Linked DNA regions of Homo sapiens: region 2 is linked to region 1. The links come from fine-mapping of genetic effects on gene expression. A gene starts in region 1. The other region holds a variant in brackets. All regions are shown on one strand. Distances are between the middles of the regions.

Evidence for each region. PIP is the estimated chance that this variant, and not a neighbour inherited with it, causes the effect.
Region 2: its variant is fine-mapped to the expression of KTN1-AS1 in skeletal muscle (FUSION, PIP 0.95).

The regions. Positions count from the first base shown.
Region 1 is chr14:55,578,554-55,581,053 of GRCh38, reverse strand. It overlaps KTN1-AS1 (KTN1 antisense RNA 1), which reads left to right and starts at 962. Exons shown (of 3, transcript NR_027123.1): 1 at 962-1,118; 2 at 2,317-2,448. KTN1 (kinectin 1) reads right to left here and starts at 847. Exons shown (of 44, transcript NM_001079521.2): 1 at 700-847. RefSeq lists silencers at 3-642, 703-962 and enhancers at 1,403-1,492, 1,503-1,622.
Region 2 is chr14:55,532,398-55,535,413 of GRCh38, reverse strand. No RefSeq gene overlaps it. Among named protein-coding and RNA genes, the nearest start is that of KTN1-AS1, 46 kb to the left of the region's middle. The variant C/T (reference allele first, on the strand shown) is at 1,294.

The DNA.
Region 1 (2,500 bases):
ACCCCTCGGGGACAGGAAGGGATAACTTCGCCGGTGTCGAGAGTGGTCCATGGATTTTTCCAAAGTCCCCCCTCATGCTGCTTTCCGTGCCCAACCGCCTCCCGCCCTGACCTGGGGACTCGCAAAGGGCAGCGGGAGGGGCGCCGGGGAAGGGGGCGAGCGCCCAGACCGCCGGAGGCAGCGGCGAGGACTGGAACTCCAGCATGGCGTAAGTGTGGCCCAGCTCCGGCCCGGGGACGCCGCCGGAGACGCGCTGCCTCCGTCCACCGGCCGAGGAGGCGGTAATCCGCCTTCCCTCCCGGGGGCCCTCAGGCTTGGCTAAAAATAGGTGCCTCGGTCACCCCAGGGCCCGCTCGGGTCGACCTCGCCTTCGGGAGAGTCGTCCTTGGGGAGGGTGGGGGGTGTCCCTCGGCCGCGCCCCGGGTGCCGCGACAGAGCCGGGGTCGGGCCCAGAGCGGCCCCGCGAGGCCGAGGAGGTCCCTCCGAGCCCGCCCCCTGCGGCGTCCCGGCCCCAACAAGAGCCCCGCGGCGGCAACCGGATGCCCGAGGCCTACCCAGCGGGCGGCGTCCGGGCCCCGCGGCCGCGCCCCCCCGCCCGGCGCGGCCCTCCCGCCTGCCCCAGGACCCCGCGGCCGGCGCCGCCTCCCCCCGCGCTCCCCGCCGCCGGCGCCCGTCCCGGTGCGGCCTGCTCTCCCTCACCCTGTGCGGCCGGGAAAGGAGACCGGGAAGACGCGGCGGCGCCGGCACTACAGCCCGGGCCGCCCGCTCCGAGGCGCCGCCGCCGCCGCCGCCGCCGCCGCAGTCGCTCAGGTGCCGTCGCGCCGCTCGGCAGGAAACGGGCGGCTTCGGGGCGGGGCGGGGCGGACCCGGCACGTCCTGGCGTCTGGGCCGGCGGCGCCGGGAGACCGGCCCCTTAAAGGGACAGCCGCCGGCCCGCCTCTGCCTCCGCGCGCCTGCCCACGCGCTCCGGTACTCGCTGCTCGCGGCTGGCCGGCTCGGGATTCCGGGCTTTCTTCCCGAGACCGCGTCCCCCAGCTGGGCCGAAGGTGGACGCTCAGGGGCTGGAGGCTCAGCGGAATCCCCTGCGTTCAGTAGCCCCGCTCTCCCCTGTCCCGAAGGTTGGTCTCGTCTCGCGCGGCCCTCCCTCCAGGGCACCACCTGGCTCCCCACGCCTTTTAACTTCAGCAAACGGCACTAGATTTACCCCCTGACTATCCCAGATTTCCCCCAGAAATTACTGGAAAACGACATCCCCCGTCCCTTTCTCCAGGGGATCTCTCTGAAATCTCCTTCGGGCAACGCTAGCTACAAACGGAGAAAGAAATTAGAAAGCGACCCAAATAATGGTCGGGCGCGGTGGTTCACGCCTGTAACCCCAGTACTTTGGGAGGCCAAGGCAGGCGGATCACCTGAGGTCAGGAGTTCGAGACCAGCCTGGCCAACATATAGTAAAACCCGTCTCTGCCAAAAAAAGTACAAAAAATTAGCTGGGCATAGTGGCGCACGCCTGTAGCCCCAGCTACTTGGGAAGCTGAGACAGGAGAATCGCAGGAATCTAGGAGGCGGAGGTTGCAGTGAGCCGAGATCTCGCCACTGCACTCCAGCCTGGGCGAGAGAGTAAGACTCTCCGTTTCTCTCAAAAAAAAAAAAAAAAAAAGGAAAGAAAAGAAAGCGACCCAAATGAGTTGTGTGCAAACATTATGAAAGTGTTGTGACTGCCAGCTGGTAGCCATTTATGAAGCCGGGGTAAAAATCTAGAAACTGCTGCGCGAGGAGGGATGGGCCCGGATCTCTCCTTATTCGTTTGCTCTTTGCTGAAAGGATGGCAGCGATCCTCCCCGTCCACTGGCAAGTGAGTTTCGTGTGGATTGTTTACCGATGATCAATCTCTCACAGGAGGCCAGGCACTGCCCCACTACATGTACAAAACACTCCAAGCTGTCCGCAAATGTTATGAAGGCTTAAAATAATCCTAACGATTCCAGACTGTGGATAGAGATAGAAAAAATTAGGACTCACCACCACCACCTCGCCCTACATCTGACAAAGTGGGAACAGAAGCAGTTAAGGAATGAACAGCAGAACCGTTTCTACACCAACAGAATTTCCTGTACATGGGCTGGTTAAAAGTATCCATACTTTTTATTCTAATCATTTCTAAGTTTTCTAGAGCACCTCCAAAATACAAATGAAAACTGCGCAGTGTATAGTGGCCTGAGATATTGAGAATTCTGCCAGTCTTCAGTCACCGTGTTCTCCACAGATGCATTGTCTTATTTTAACTCCAGAGGCGTCCTCTTTTTTCTTTCTCATTAGGATTACTCTGCCCCTCAGCGGTTCCAGTGCCCTCAAAGCAATCTGTCTCTGAAGTACTGGCTATCTTCTGAGCGTGTGCCAGAAGATCCAGCTTTGTTGAAAAGCGAAGCCGTTAGTCCCTTAATACAAAGGGTAAGTGTATCATTTATGTAATGGAGTTTAAGGGCTCTTGATTAGCTTACAA
Region 2 (3,016 bases), 46 kb after region 1:
GTGCCAGTGCACTTGTGGCATATATGTTAATAAAAACTAGTAACTATCTTTTATGGCATGTTTATACTATTGTGCCAGACCCTATTATAAGTAGTTGACATAAATTAATTCATTTAATCCTTACAGCTAACCCAAGAGTAGGTACTATTTTTACCCCCATTTATAGATAAACAAACCAAAAAACAAAGAGTTGAAATGATTTTTCCAAGGTCCCAGTGGAGCATCACACAGAGGCAGACAGACCCCACCAAGGCAGATGGCGACTGCTGTCCAGGAACTGTTACCGCATCTCCTACACCCAACCAATGACCAGCCTGATTATGGAGCTTTTCAAAAATCTGATTCTTAGGCCCCGCCCCCAGGATTCTGGTTCAGTCAGTCTGAATTCTGCATCACTTTTGTAGATTACCCTGGTGATTCTGAGCATTAGCTGGGTTGCCAACATCAGGTTGGTTTCCCATTGGTGATTTGGCAATGTCTTTTTGCTGGTGGATCATTATTAAGTTCCTTCAGACCACACAATACTCCACATCATAGGTAATGGGGCAGGTTACTACTTTTAGAATTTCCAATACAATGAGTAAAAGTCAGAATTAGTATTTTACTTACATATGATACTTCTTGTACCTGAGCTCATCTTCCATTAAAATATATTTTAGCCAGGTGCTGTGGCTCACCCCCATAATTCCAGCACTTTGGGAGGCCAAGGCAGGAAAGTCACTTGAGGCCAGAAGTTCAAGACCAGCCTGGACAACATAGCAAGACTCCATCTCTACAAAAAATTTAAAAATTAGACAGGCATGGTAGTTCGTGCCTGTAGTCCCAGCCACTCAGGAGGCTGAGGTGAGAGGATCACTTGAGCCCAGGAGTCCAAAGCTGCAGCAAGCTATGACAGCACCACTGCACTCCAGCCTGGACAACAGAGCAAGACCCTGTCTCTTTAAAAAACAAAAACAAGCAAAACAAAACATTTTAATTGTTATGCATAGTATATATGTGCATTTTTGTTAAATTAAGACTTATAATCTCATAATGATCATGATTTCCCCCAAATGCTGATGATGACCAAATTTCTATTTCTGTCCCAGACCTTGAACCCCCAGCCTAAAAATCAGATTGCATATTGGATGTTTCTTCCTGGAAGAATGTCAAACTGAACAAGTCTGAAACTGATCTTTGTGCATCACAACCCAGCCAAACCTGTTACTTCTCCTACATTCCCTTTCTTGGTGATTGGCTTGTCCACCCACTCAGCCACACCAGCCAAAATGCTGGGAGTCATTTGGATTCCAC[C/T]GCCTCCCCCACTTCCCATGACCCAACAGTCCACCTGCTTCCCACGGCCTCCCTTTCCTGCTGCCACTGCACCAGTTCACGCCACTTCTTGGAGGACATCTCGGGGTCTATCGCCCAGCTCCCTGTCTTGGGCTGCACTGCTTCCAGAGTGCTTGCTTTCTTTTCTTTCTTCCTCTTTGTTCTTTTGCTTTTGGGTCCAAGCTTCACTTTTTAAAAATGACATAATCTGTTTCAAATATACAATTGAGTTCAGAGAATAATAAACAATTGTGTTCTACTAGTTTTATCAACATCTCAACATTATCATGTCATGTTTGCCAGTTTATTTAAAGAAATATATATAAATTTATGTATTTAATGTATATTTCAACTGCCAGAGGTCACTGGTTTGAATCCAGCTCCACTACTTACTTACTACATATGTATTAATACATATTATATAAAAATATAGGTATTGAAACCCACCTTGACTAGCTCGTCCCCTAGTCCCTGAGTCCCCCTTTCCCAGGGCATTCTCATGAATTTGCTATTATCAATCTCACGTATGTTAATATTTTCTGTAGACATTTATATGTTCATAAACAATTCAAAGTGCACTTTGTAGGTTTTTAAACTTTACTAAAATAACGTCATACTGTATATATTCTCTGCAGCCTGCTTCCTTCACTCAATTTTGTTTTTTCTTCTTTTTGCCACATGTTGCCCTAATTCATTCATGTTAACTACCATATGGTATTCTATTATGGCTCTATACTACAATCTATTTATTTATTCTCTGTGGAAGAACATTTAGGGTTTTTTGCTAATACAAACAGTGGAGCATTGCTGTTTTTGAACAGATGTTTGAGAGTTTCTCCAGGCTAAATTCTCAGGAACGGGATTACTTTCCTGGTCTCCCGAGACAGAGACAAATAGTTTCCTGCCTCCTTTTCTCTAATCCTCACTGCCGCCAGAACAATTGTGCTGAAATGCCCATCTGATCCTGTCACTCTCCTGCTTAAGTGCCTTTCATGAAACAAACCTGCCATTCCTCAATAGGACACAAGGGGCCTGTGCTCTGGGCCCTGCTGCTTCTGCAGCCTTCTCTCCCCTCTCCACCCCACCCGTCACCCAGTGCTCTACCAATTGCTCCCTGCATCCCTAACAGACCCCAGGGATCCTGTCTCCCAAACCCTTGCGCCATCTTCTCTCTTTCCAGGACTGCCCTACCCTCACTCATCTCCTCCAGCCTTCATACCAGGAAATACCTAATTTACAGGGTGGGGTCTTGCTCTGTTGTCCAGGCTGGAGTGCAATGGCGCAATAACAGCTCACTGCAGCCTTGACCTCCCAGACTCAGGTGATCCTCCCACCTCAGCCTCCTAAGTAGCTGGGACCACAAGTGTGGGCCATGACACCTGGCTAATTTTTAAAATTATTTGTAGAGACAGCGTCTCCTATGTTGCCCAGACTGGTCTCCAACTCCTGGACTCAAGCACTAATTGTTTTTTGAGAGTCATGTTCTCATGGACTTTTCCTCAACTGCTAGAGATCACTGGTTTGAATCCAACTCTACTACTTACTAACTCAGGCACATCTTTAAACCTCTCTGAGCTCAGTTTCTTCATCAATAAAATGAAGAAAATAATAGCACTCACCACATATGCCTGTCATATGGGTTGAATTTGATTATCAATACTTTGATTATTGAATTTGATTGTTGATATAGAGCACTTTATATAGT